Linked DNA regions of Homo sapiens. The protein of the gene in region 3 interacts with the protein of the main gene of each other region in a pairwise test. Each region holds a gene or a part of one and is shown on either strand. Other genes may lie near its edges.

The links.
Region 1: the proteins of FAM118B (region 3) and RASGRP2 interact in a two-hybrid assay, tested with the Homo sapiens proteins (one large-scale study listed by IntAct).
Region 2: the proteins of FAM118B (region 3) and MCM3AP interact in a two-hybrid assay, tested with the Homo sapiens proteins (one large-scale study listed by BioGRID and IntAct).

The regions. Positions count from the first base shown.
Region 1 is NC_000011.10:64,737,493-64,741,142, reverse strand, and holds part of RASGRP2 (RAS guanyl-releasing protein 2), read left to right. Parts: intron 1-63; coding exon 64-195; intron 196-693; exon of another isoform or gene 694-775; intron 776-979; coding exon 980-1,130; intron 1,131-1,333; coding exon 1,334-1,507; intron 1,508-1,666; coding exon 1,667-1,783; intron 1,784-3,650. UniProt on the Homo sapiens protein: Functions as a calcium- and DAG-regulated nucleotide exchange factor specifically activating Rap through the exchange of bound GDP for GTP. May also activate other GTPases such as RRAS, RRAS2, NRAS, KRAS but not HRAS.
Region 2 is NC_000021.9:46,279,087-46,282,736, forward strand, and holds part of MCM3AP (germinal-center associated nuclear protein), read right to left. Parts: intron 1,490-3,650; coding exon 1,411-1,489; intron 1,052-1,410; coding exon 907-1,051; intron 1-906.
Region 3 is NC_000011.10:126,235,722-126,239,371, reverse strand, and holds part of FAM118B (protein FAM118B), read right to left. Parts: intron 3,443-3,650; exon of another isoform or gene 3,301-3,442; coding exon of another isoform or gene 3,117-3,300; intron 1-3,116. Other genes in the region: SRPRA (signal recognition particle receptor subunit alpha), read left to right, coding at 3,117-3,300. UniProt on the Homo sapiens protein: May play a role in Cajal bodies formation.

The DNA.
Region 1 (3,650 bases), about 61 Mb from region 3:
CCTTGCAGCCTGCTGGGTGATGGTGGGGGAAGGGCTATCTTGGGTGACTCCCCGCTCCTCCAGGTACTGGATCTCCGCCTTCCCAGCGGAGTTTGACTTGAACCCGGAGTTGGCTGAGCAGATCAAGGAGCTGAAGGCTCTGCTAGACCAAGAAGGGAACCGACGGCACAGCAGCCTAATCGACATAGACAGCGTGTGCGTGGGGGGAGCACAGAGGGCTGGGGGGGCACTCAGTATCCTATACCATCTGTGCTTAATAAATGTCTGTTGAACTGAATGAGTGAGGGTCATGTTGCTCTCTCGCTTAAAAACCTTCCATGGCTCCCTATTGCCTTCAACATGCCTCCTCTGGGCAGCTTGGCGTTCCTGCCTCATCTTCCACTGCCACCACCCATCCCACACACCTCCTCCTGTAGCTGCGCTGGGTCGGCTCCCCGTCGGCTGAGCTCTCGAGTCCTTTCTCATCATGGTGCTCTGCTCATATCATCCCCCTTGCTGCCTCCTCCGTGTTACCAAGACTCAGTTCAGGCATGAAGTCTCCGTGGGCTCTGAGGGTTCGGGGCTCTTCCGGGGTAGAATTTGTCGTTCCCACCTCTGTTTTCCATGGCACTTTGTACAGACTCCTGTACAAAGACCTCTGTACATGTGTCACGCTGTTTTGTGATCATGTGTTTCTGTGTCTGTCTCCCTCAGTAGACTGTGAGCTCCTCGAGGGCAGGAACCGTGTCTTACTCATCTCTGTATTCCCAGCGCCTAGCACAGTGCCTGGCACAGAGTACGTTGTTCATAAATGTGTGTTGAGTGCATGACGGGGTCGGGGGAGATGAGGAGGAGTTGCTGGGACTGGGAACATTCGTGCCTAGGACAGTGCCTCGCATTATGTAGGTTCTCAGTAAGCGTGAATGGTGTGTCTGTGTGAGTGGGGGGCCACGAGTCATGCGCATGTCCAGCAAAGGGCTCACTACCCCTGCCCCCCCAGCCCTACCTACAAGTGGAAGCGGCAGGTGACTCAGCGGAACCCTGTGGGACAGAAAAAGCGCAAGATGTCCCTGTTGTTTGACCACCTGGAGCCCATGGAGCTGGCGGAGCATCTCACCTACTTGGAGTATCGCTCCTTCTGCAAGATCCTGGTGCGGCCCGAGGGCTGGGGGGTCAGGGGTCCAATGTGGGCTGGAAGAGAGTTCTAGGAGGGGCAGGGTCCCTGGCGTAGGCTGGGTCACAGGGTGCATCAGGGGTTTCAGTGTAACCACTGAAGGTCAGCTGGAGGGTGAGGAGTGGCTATCAGTGAGGGGAGAGGCCAGCAAGGTGCTGAGGCCACTCCTCATGCCCCCAGTTTCAGGACTATCACAGTTTCGTGACTCATGGCTGCACTGTGGACAACCCCGTCCTGGAGCGGTTCATCTCCCTCTTCAACAGCGTCTCACAGTGGGTGCAGCTCATGATCCTCAGCAAACCCACAGCCCCGCAGCGGGCCCTGGTCATCACACACTTTGTCCACGTGGCGGAGGTGCCTGCCCCTCCCTCCCGGTGTCTCCCAACCACCCCACATGCCAGTCAGGCCAACCCTTCCCTTCCCCTAACCCACTGCCTTCTCTCTAGATAAGCTGGGCCAAATTCTGGGCCCACTCAGTGACTCCCTGCCTCTCCGTCCCCATTTGCCTTCCAGAAGCTGCTACAGCTGCAGAACTTCAACACGCTGATGGCAGTGGTCGGGGGCCTGAGCCACAGCTCCATCTCCCGCCTCAAGGAGACCCACAGCCACGTTAGCCCTGAGACCATCAAGGTGCCTGGGACTGGGGAGGGGCCGGTGCTTCCCAGGTCTGTCTTCACTGGGTCCTCCCAGCAGCACTGGGGGCTGGGCACAGCTGTCCTCATTTGATAGATATGGAAATGGAGGCTCAGAGGGGTTAAGTGCTTTTCTCAGTTTGCACAATGGCAACAGCAGAGTGGGGGCTCACAGGTCGTCAGGGACCCCAAAGCTAGTACTTTTTTTTTTTTTTTTAAGACAGGGTCTCTCTCTCTGTTGTCCAGACTGGAGTTCAGTGGTGCAGTCACAAGCTCACTGCAGCCTTGAACTCCTGAGCTCAATCGATCCTCCCACCTCAGCCTCCTGAGTAGCTGGGACTACAGGTGTACGCCACCATGCCTAATTTTTGTATTGTTATTAATTTTTTTTTTTTTTTTTAGAGATGGGGTTTTGCCATGTTGCCCAGACTGGTCTTGAACTCCTGGGCTCAAGTGATCCGCCTGCCTTGGCCTCCCAAAGTGCTGAGATTATGGCTTGAGCCATTGTGCCTTGCCACTTGTAGTTTCTTCTTTTCTTTCTCCTTCATTTTTTATTATTTTTGAAGTATTTTGAAGTATTGAGTAACATACATATAGAAAAGTATATAAAAACATATGAGACTGGGCGTAGTAGCTCACACCTGTAATCCCAGCACTTTGGGAGGCTGAGGTGGGCAGATCACGTGACATCAGGAGTTTGAGACCAGCCTGGCCAACAAGGTGGAAACCCATCTCTACTAAAATACAAAAATTAGCCAGGCATGGTGGCACGCACCTGGAATCCAAGCTACTTGGGAGGCTGAGGCAGGAGGAGAATTACTTGAACTCAGGAGGCGGAGGTTGCAGTGAGCCAAGATTGTGCCACTTCACTCCAGCCTGGGCGACAGAGTGAGACTCCATCTAAAAAAAAAGAAAAGTATATAAAAACATATGAATAGTTTAAAGAAAAATTGTAAAGAAAACACTGTGTAACTACTGCCCGGGTTGGGAAATAGAACCTTGCCAGGCCCCCAAGCGCCCAGCACTTTAGAGCATAACTCCCTCCCCACGACTTTTGCAATGATGATCTTGCTTTTCTTTATAGCTTCACCATGTAGGTATGCGGTCCAAAACAATGTGGGGCTTTTTGTTGTCTGTTTTGAACTTTCTATGAATGGAATGTTGTTTGTGTTATTTTATGTCTTGCTTTTTTCATTCCACATGGTTCTGAGAGTCTTTTCATTCTGTCATGTGGAGCAATTGTTTTTTCATTTTCATTGCCATATAATATTTTATTGTACGTCTACCCCAATTCATTTATTTATTTATTTTTTTGAGATGGAGTCTGTCTCTGTCATCCAGGCTGGAGTGCGGTGGCGAGATCTCATCACTGCAACTTCCGTCTCCTGGGTTTACGTGATTCTCGTGCCTCAGCCTCCTGAGTAGCTGGGATTATGGGCTCGTACCACCACGTCTGGCTAATTTTTTGTAGAGACAGGCTTTCACCATGTTGCCGAGGCTGGTCTTGAACTCCTGAGCTCAGGCAATCCACCCGCTTTAGCCTCCCAAAGTGCTGGGATTACAGGTGTGAGCCACTGCCCCCAGCCTACCCCAATTTATGTATTGATTCTATTGTTGAATGTTGGGGTTTTTCCTTTTCTTTTCTTTCTTTCTTTTTCTTTCTTTTTTTTTTTTTTTTTGAGATGGAGTCTTGCTCTGTCGCCAGGCTGGAGTGCAGTGACGCTAATTTGGCTCACTGCATCACTGCACCCTCTGCCTCCCGGGTTCAAGCGATTCTCCTGCCTCAGCCTCCTGAGTAGCTGGGACTACAGGCATGCACCACCACACCCGGCTAATTTTTGTATTTTTTTAGTAGAGATGAGGTT
Region 2 (3,650 bases), on a different chromosome or scaffold from region 3:
ACCAGCCTGGCCAACATGGTGAAACCCCATCTCTACTAAAAATACAAAAATATTAGCTGGGCGTGGTGGAGCGCACCTGTAATCTCAGCTACTAGGGAGGCTAAGGCAGGAGAATTTCTTGAACCCAGGAGGCAGAGGTTGCAGTGAGCCAAGATCGTGCCACTGAACTCCAACCTGGGCAACAGCCAGACTGTGTCTCAAAAAAAAAAGGAATGCATGGTTTATTACAGCCAGTTAAATGTCTTGAGGTAAAAAGTTATTGCTTATACATTTATATGTCAAGTGGAACTGCACTTAACTGCAGTGGGATTCAGGACGAGTTAGATGAGCAAGGAGATTTCCTACTACAATCCTGTGAGGCAGGCAGCGACCCGCCACAGGGCGCCAGCCTGCGTGTGTCCCACAGAGCAGGCACTCTGTGCAAGGACAGAAGTTCTGCTGTCCTAAGTGAGCAGCCTCCCCTGGATCTCCTGTAGCTGCAGCTGAAAGGTCTGTACCAGCTATAACAACTGTGTGATGAGATTCTCCCATAGAAAATGCCAAGATGGAAACAAGAAAAAAAGGCCAGCCCCAAAGGAAGGCTTTCTCAGCAACCTTGGCCCTAGGGTATATGAGAACAAGACAGGACAGAATCACTGCTCTCCACCATCTCTGCAGCTGGCAGTTACCAGTGTCAGAAAATTCTCTCTTCTGGCTGGGACCACCAGCCCCACACAGACCCACCTCCTAACGGCCCATGCTGGCAGGAGGGGCAGAGCCCCTGCCCCTCCACCCCCAACCATCCCTAGCAACTGGCTTTTGTCTCCTCACCACTCCCCACAGTCTTGCACCCTGACTCAGGTGTCGCTATAGGGCGCTATTTCCTGGTCCTTCCGGAATAAGGTCATTAGGAGGGACCGATCCCACCTTTTATTCAGGAGGCTGCTAGCACCAGTCCTCCCTGCGGCCTTGCCAAGAGGAGAGTGCTGAAAGGGTGCATCCTCTGTGCTCGGGCTGACTTCACCGTCACCTGGTTTCTTCTCCTTCAGGGAAAAGGGTTTCTTATTGGGGCCTGTGGACATAGGAGGCAGAAAAGAGTTTATGCAATCACAGATCACCTGGAACTGGATTTTTTCACTCTGTTTCTAAGAAAGTAATATTATTTTCATTGTCACAGGAGGTTAGAGAAGAGCCCAAGGAAATAACTGTGAGATGCAAATCCACTGAGAGCCAGCCTCCTCCACTGGCTGGGGAAAGGGCTCACGCTCAAAGGGTTTGGACCAAGAGCATGAGAAACTGAAAAGAGGGCCATGCACAATGGCTCATGCCTGTAATCCCAAGATCAGACTGGGCAACATAGCGAGATCTCATCTCTATAAAATAAATAAAAATAATTTTTTTAAAAAGTGAAAAGAATAATTGAAAACTCACTTATTTTCTTCCTGTGCCAAAAGATAGCCATGTCTTTATGCAAACTTTTCCCCTTCTTTCTAGCCAGGGCTGCAGATGCCTGGAAAACAGTCCACAACCGCCATGTGTGAGTATATCAGGAAACCAAAGGAAATGGGATTGAAAACTCAAATGCAGTAAGCACAACAGACCATTCAAAGGCACCAGGAGCTCCTGTCCTTTGCACGACAGTGATTTCTCCACCCACACGTCTGCTAACTGCATGGTCTCTGGCTGCGGCAGCAGCAGTATTCATCTCCCTTACCTGTCTCACAAGCATGTATTTGCTCTTTCCCCCTTTTTTTTTTTGAGACAGAGTCTCGCTCTGTCAGCCAGGCTGGAGTGCGGTGGTGAGATCTCAGCTTACTGCAATCTCCACCTTCAGGGTTCATGCATTCTCCTGCCTCAGCCTCCTGAGCAGCTGGGACTACAGGCGCCCGCCACCACATCCGGCTAATTTTTTGTATTTGTAGTAGAGACGGGGTTTCACCGTGTTAGCCAGGATGGTCTTGATCTCCTGACCTCAGGTGATCCGCCCACCTTGGCCTCCCAAAGTGCTGGGATTACAGGCGTGAGCCACCGCGCCCGGCCCCTTTTTTTTAATTAACAACTTTGCTTCATAGAACTCACAAACTTGGCCTTGTTGGCATTTGGTGAGATGATTCTCACCAGCTGATCACACATACAGAGACAGAAAGTTTGCGAAGTCACAATTAAGCACAAAAGGGAGCTGCAGAATAACACACATGGGATGCCACTTACCACAGAAAACACACACAAAACCAACCACGTTAGTCTCCGTGTAGATACACTCATAAAAATGTCTAAAAAAATACACATCACACTAGTTAACTGGACTGCTCCTGAGTAACAGGAGAGATGAGGATATTCAGTTTTGTCTGTATCAATGAATTGTTTATAAAGGCAGTCTATTTACATATTAGTTATGTCATAAAATATTTAAGGTTCAGCTGGGAAAATAAGCACATTGCAACAGGCAAAAAATAACTGTAAAAACAAAAGGGGGTTGGGCATGGTGGCTCATGCCCGTTATCCTAGCACTTTGGGAGGTGGAGGTGGGAGGATCACTTGTGCCCAGGAATTTAGGACCAGCCTGGGCCACATAGTGAAACTTCATCTCAAAAAAATAAATAAATAATAAAATAACAATAAAATAAATAGTAGTAATAAATAATAAAAACAAGGCCAGGCATGGTGGCTCACGCCTGTAATCCCAGCACTTTGGGAGGCCAAGGTGCGTGGAACACTGAGGTCAGGAGTTCGAGACCAGCCTGGCCAACGTGGTGAAACCCCCTCTCCACTAAAACTACAAAAATTAGCCAGGCATGGTGGTGCACACACAATCCCAGCTACTTGGGAGGCTGAGGGAGGAGAATCGCTTGAACTGGAAAGGTAAAGGTTGAAGTGAGCCAAGATTGCGCCACTACAATACAGGCTGGGAGACAGAGCAAGGCCCCGTCTCAAAAACAACAACAACAAAAATGAGAGCCGGTACAATGACTCAGGTCTGTAATCCCAACATTTTGGGAGGCTAAGGCAGGAGGACAGCTTGAGGACCGGAGTTCGAGACCTGCCTGAGCAACACAGTAAGACCCCATCTATACAAATGTAAAAATACAAACTTTTTTTAATTAAAAAAATTAAAACTAAAAACAAATTAGGATTACCATATGACCCAGCAATTCCAATCCTAAGAATATACCCCAAAAAACTGAAAGCAGGGACTCAAATAAGTCATATGCCAATGAACATTATTCACAATAGCCAAAAAGTAGAAACAACCCGCGTCTGCCAACAGACGAATCAACAAAACGTAGTCCATCCACTCAATGTAGTATCATTCACTTTATAAATTTATACTTTATAAATTCCTATAGAACGTAATTTTGTCTATGAGAATACTCAGAAAAAATAGTGACGATATAAAGCTATATAACATAAGCAGTCCACGTTCACTGCACCCTAGAAAGTATTATGCATACATTTAGGCTGGGCGCAGTGGCTCACGCCTGTAATCCCAGCACTTTGGGAGGCCGAGGCAGGCAGATCGTGAGGTCAGGAGATCGAGACCATCCTGGCTGACACAGTGAAAGCCCGTATCTACTAAAAATACAAAAAAATTAGCCGGGTGTGGTGGCGGGCGCCTGTAGTTCCAGCTACTCCGGAGGCTGAGGCAGGAGAATGGCGTGAACCCGGGAAGT
Region 3 (3,650 bases):
TAGCAGAGAATAAGGACTTTTTACTTTTCATTTTATACTGTTGTACTGTATTTTTTTATATAACATACAGATTTGAACTATAATTCTTCCTAATTAAGACTTCCAATTTGGCTAAGTGCAGTGGTTCATGCCTGTAATCTCAGCACTTTAGGAGGCTGAGCTTGAGCCCAGGAGTTTGAGACAAGCCTAGGCAACTTAGTGAGACCCCATCTCTGCCAAACAAAGAAAGAACGAAAAAGAAAATTAGGCACGTCTGTAGTCCCAGCTACCTGGGAGGCTAAGTTCACGGGAGGATCACGTGAGCCCAGGAGGCTGAGGTTGCAGTGAGCTGTGTTTGTGCCACTGCACTCCAGCCTGGGTGACAGAACAAGACCTTGTCTCGAAAAAAAAAAAAAAAAAGACTTCCACTTAAAAATAAAACATTTAACAATTGTGTTTTATTACTGGTTCTTTGTAAACCACCAAATAATAGTTACTTTTTTTTTTTAGCGGGTATATATACCTAAAAAGTAGGCTAGGTAAAGATGACAGCAGACAACAGAGGTCAAAGGGCAACAACATTTTACCAATTGTAATGCAAAGGCCGATTCCCTTGGTAGAATTTTGGGAATGTTCATGTACATCTAAAGGTAGAGGGGCTGGTGGGGCTAAAATAGGAGAATCAGTTACAAGCCTTTAACAGTTACAACTTTCAGCAGGCTAGAGGTTTCCCTTCTGCAGAGGTTGACCAGAGGACTATATCTGAGAACACTGCACACAGCTGAGGGTGGGGATTAAGTAAAAGTCTGTATATAAAATACAAGATTTCCCCCAACTCTCTTTCCCCAGAGGAAGCTTTTCAGACTCTAGGAATCAACTCTGTACCTGCACCCCTATCCCCCATCCAGTTAGGAAATGAGGACGATTCCTCTTTCAGGAAAATGGCCAGTATGAGATGAAAAACCTGCAGATTCTGACAGGTGGGAATTCCTTAACTCTACATAGAGTCTGGGACCAAGCCCCTTATGTACACACAGATTCTCCAACTGGCTTTTTTTTTTGAGATGGAATCTCGTAATCTTGGCTCACTGCAACCTCTGCCTCCTGGGTTCAAGTGATTCTCTTGCTTCAGCCTCCCGAGTAGCTGGGATTACAGGCACGTGCCACCACACCCAGCCAATTTTTGTATTTTTAGTAGAGACGGGGTTTCACCAGGTTGGCCAGGCTGGTCTCAAACTCCTGACCTCAAGTGATCCGCCTGCCTTGGCCTCCCAAAGTGCTGGGATTACAGGCGTGAGCCACCGCACCCGGCCTCTTCCATTGGCTTTTTGGTGTTTTCTGTTAAAAATGGGCAGACAAACAAGGGTCACCTCACATCTGAGGAAAGCCCCCAACATAACAGTTATACCAAACAAACTAGCAGGTAGAGAGAAATCTGAAGGAAATAAGAGATAGTATGGGAAGGAGAAAAAAAAATTAAAAGAAAACAATGATATCCTCACATATATTTTTTCTTTTCTTTTTTTTTTTTTTTTTGGAGACGGAGTCTAGCTTTGTTGCCAGGCTGGAGTGCAGTGACACAATCTCAGCTCACTGCAACCTCCGCCTCCCAGGTTCAAGTGATTCTCCTGCCTCAGCCTCCCGAGTAGCTGGGATTACAGGCACGCGCCACCACGCCCCGCTAATTTTTTTTTTTTTTTTTTTTTTTTTTTAGTAGAGACAGGGTTTCACTATGTTACCCAGGTACCCAGGATGGTCTCGATCTCCTGACCTCACGATCTGCCCACCTCAGCCTCCCAAAGTGCTGGGATGACAGGCGTGAGCCACCGAGCCTGGCCTAGATTTTTTTAAAATTGGCCAGGTGGGGTGGCTCACGCCTGTCATCCCAGCACTTTGGGAGGCCAAGGCAGGTGGATCACTTGAGGTCAGGAGTTTGAGATCAGCCTGGTCAACATGGTGAAAACCTGTCTTTATTTAAAAAATAAATAAATAAATAAAATAAAAATTAGCCAGGTGTGGTAGAGCACGTTTGTAATCCCAGCTACTCAGGAGGCTGAGGCAGGAGAATTGCTTGAACCCGGGAGGCAGAGGTTGCAGTGAGCTGAGATTGCACCATTGCACTCCAGCCTGGGCAACAGAGCGAGACTCCATCTCAAAAAAAAAAAAAAAAAAAAAAAGGCCAGGCGCGGTGGCTCACGTCTGTAATCCCTGCACTTTAGGAGGCTGAGGCAGGTGGATCATGAGGTCAGGAGATTAAGGCCATCCTGGCTAACACAGTGAAATCCCGTCTCTACTAAAAATACAAAAAATTAGCCGGGCATGGTGGCGGGCGCCTGTAGTCCCAGCTACTCGGGAGGCTGAGGCAGGAGAATGGTGTGAACCCGGGAGGCAGAGCTTGCAATGAGCCGAGATAGTGTCACTGCACTCCAGCCTGGGAGACAGTGAGACTCTGTCTAAAAAAAAAAAAAAAAAAAAGCATCTGTGAAACATAAACAGAGTGCTATGAAAAAATGAACAAACAAAAAGACTTCATAAATCAAAAATAACGCAACAGAAATTTTTAAATCCACAAGATAAAACAGAGAACCCCCGAGAAAGCTAAATTTAAGAAAACGAAATGGGGGGGAAAAAAATAAAGCAACACATAAAAAATTAGAGACTTAATACAAGAAGTCCAACATCTGAATAACAAGAGTTTTAAAAAAATGTGGAATAGAAAAAACATTGTAATGGAAAGTATCAAAAAAGTAATATAAGTCAACTTCTCCAAAGTGAAGGTACTAGTTGCCAGCTTTAAAGAGCTGCCCGGTGTCTAGATTCATATGACAAGATACATCACTGTGAAATTTCAGGTTACTGAGAATAAAATAATGATCCTTATAAGCTTCTAATGAACAACAACAACAACAAAAATGAAACAAAACAAAACAAAAAACAGGGAAAGAGGTCATACAATACAAAGGATTGGGAATCAGAACAGAGTGGCTATTTTGGCAGGAATACTTAGATGTTAGCAGAGTATGAATGAGAGATACTAAAAATTCTATACTCAGTCAAACCATCAAATGAATGTAAGTGTATGATAAAGACCTTTTCAAATATGTCCAAATAATTTTCTCCTATGGGTCCTTACTTAGGAGGCTATGCAAGGACATGCTTCAGGAAAACAAAGGCGTGCACCAAAAAAGAGGACATGAGATCCAGCAAACAGAGAATCGATACAGGAGAGATGTAAAGGAAATTATCAGGATGATGGGAATGGGAAATAGCAAATATCAGGAACGCAACAGGACTGGAGAACAAGTGTCCAGAGTGGACTAGCATCCAGAAGGAAGAATCCATGACACAAACCAGCAAGTTATCGGTGTGTTTCAGTATAGCTAGGAGATTTATTCTTCTGTCAGAGCATGTGAGAATACATTGAAAGCAAACAAACAAACAAAAAAGACAGTCTTTAATGACATAAGCAAAAAAAATGGGCAAGAAAGGAAACATAATCGTTACGCATTAGGCTCAGCTATGAATACTACTTATACAGTCGTAATAATGTAAATATTAAAAGTGGATTGAACCAGGCCGGGCACAGTGGCTCACGCCTATAATCCCAGCACTTTGGGAGGCCGAGGCGGGTGGATCACGAGGTCAGGGGTTCGAGACCAGCCTGACCAACA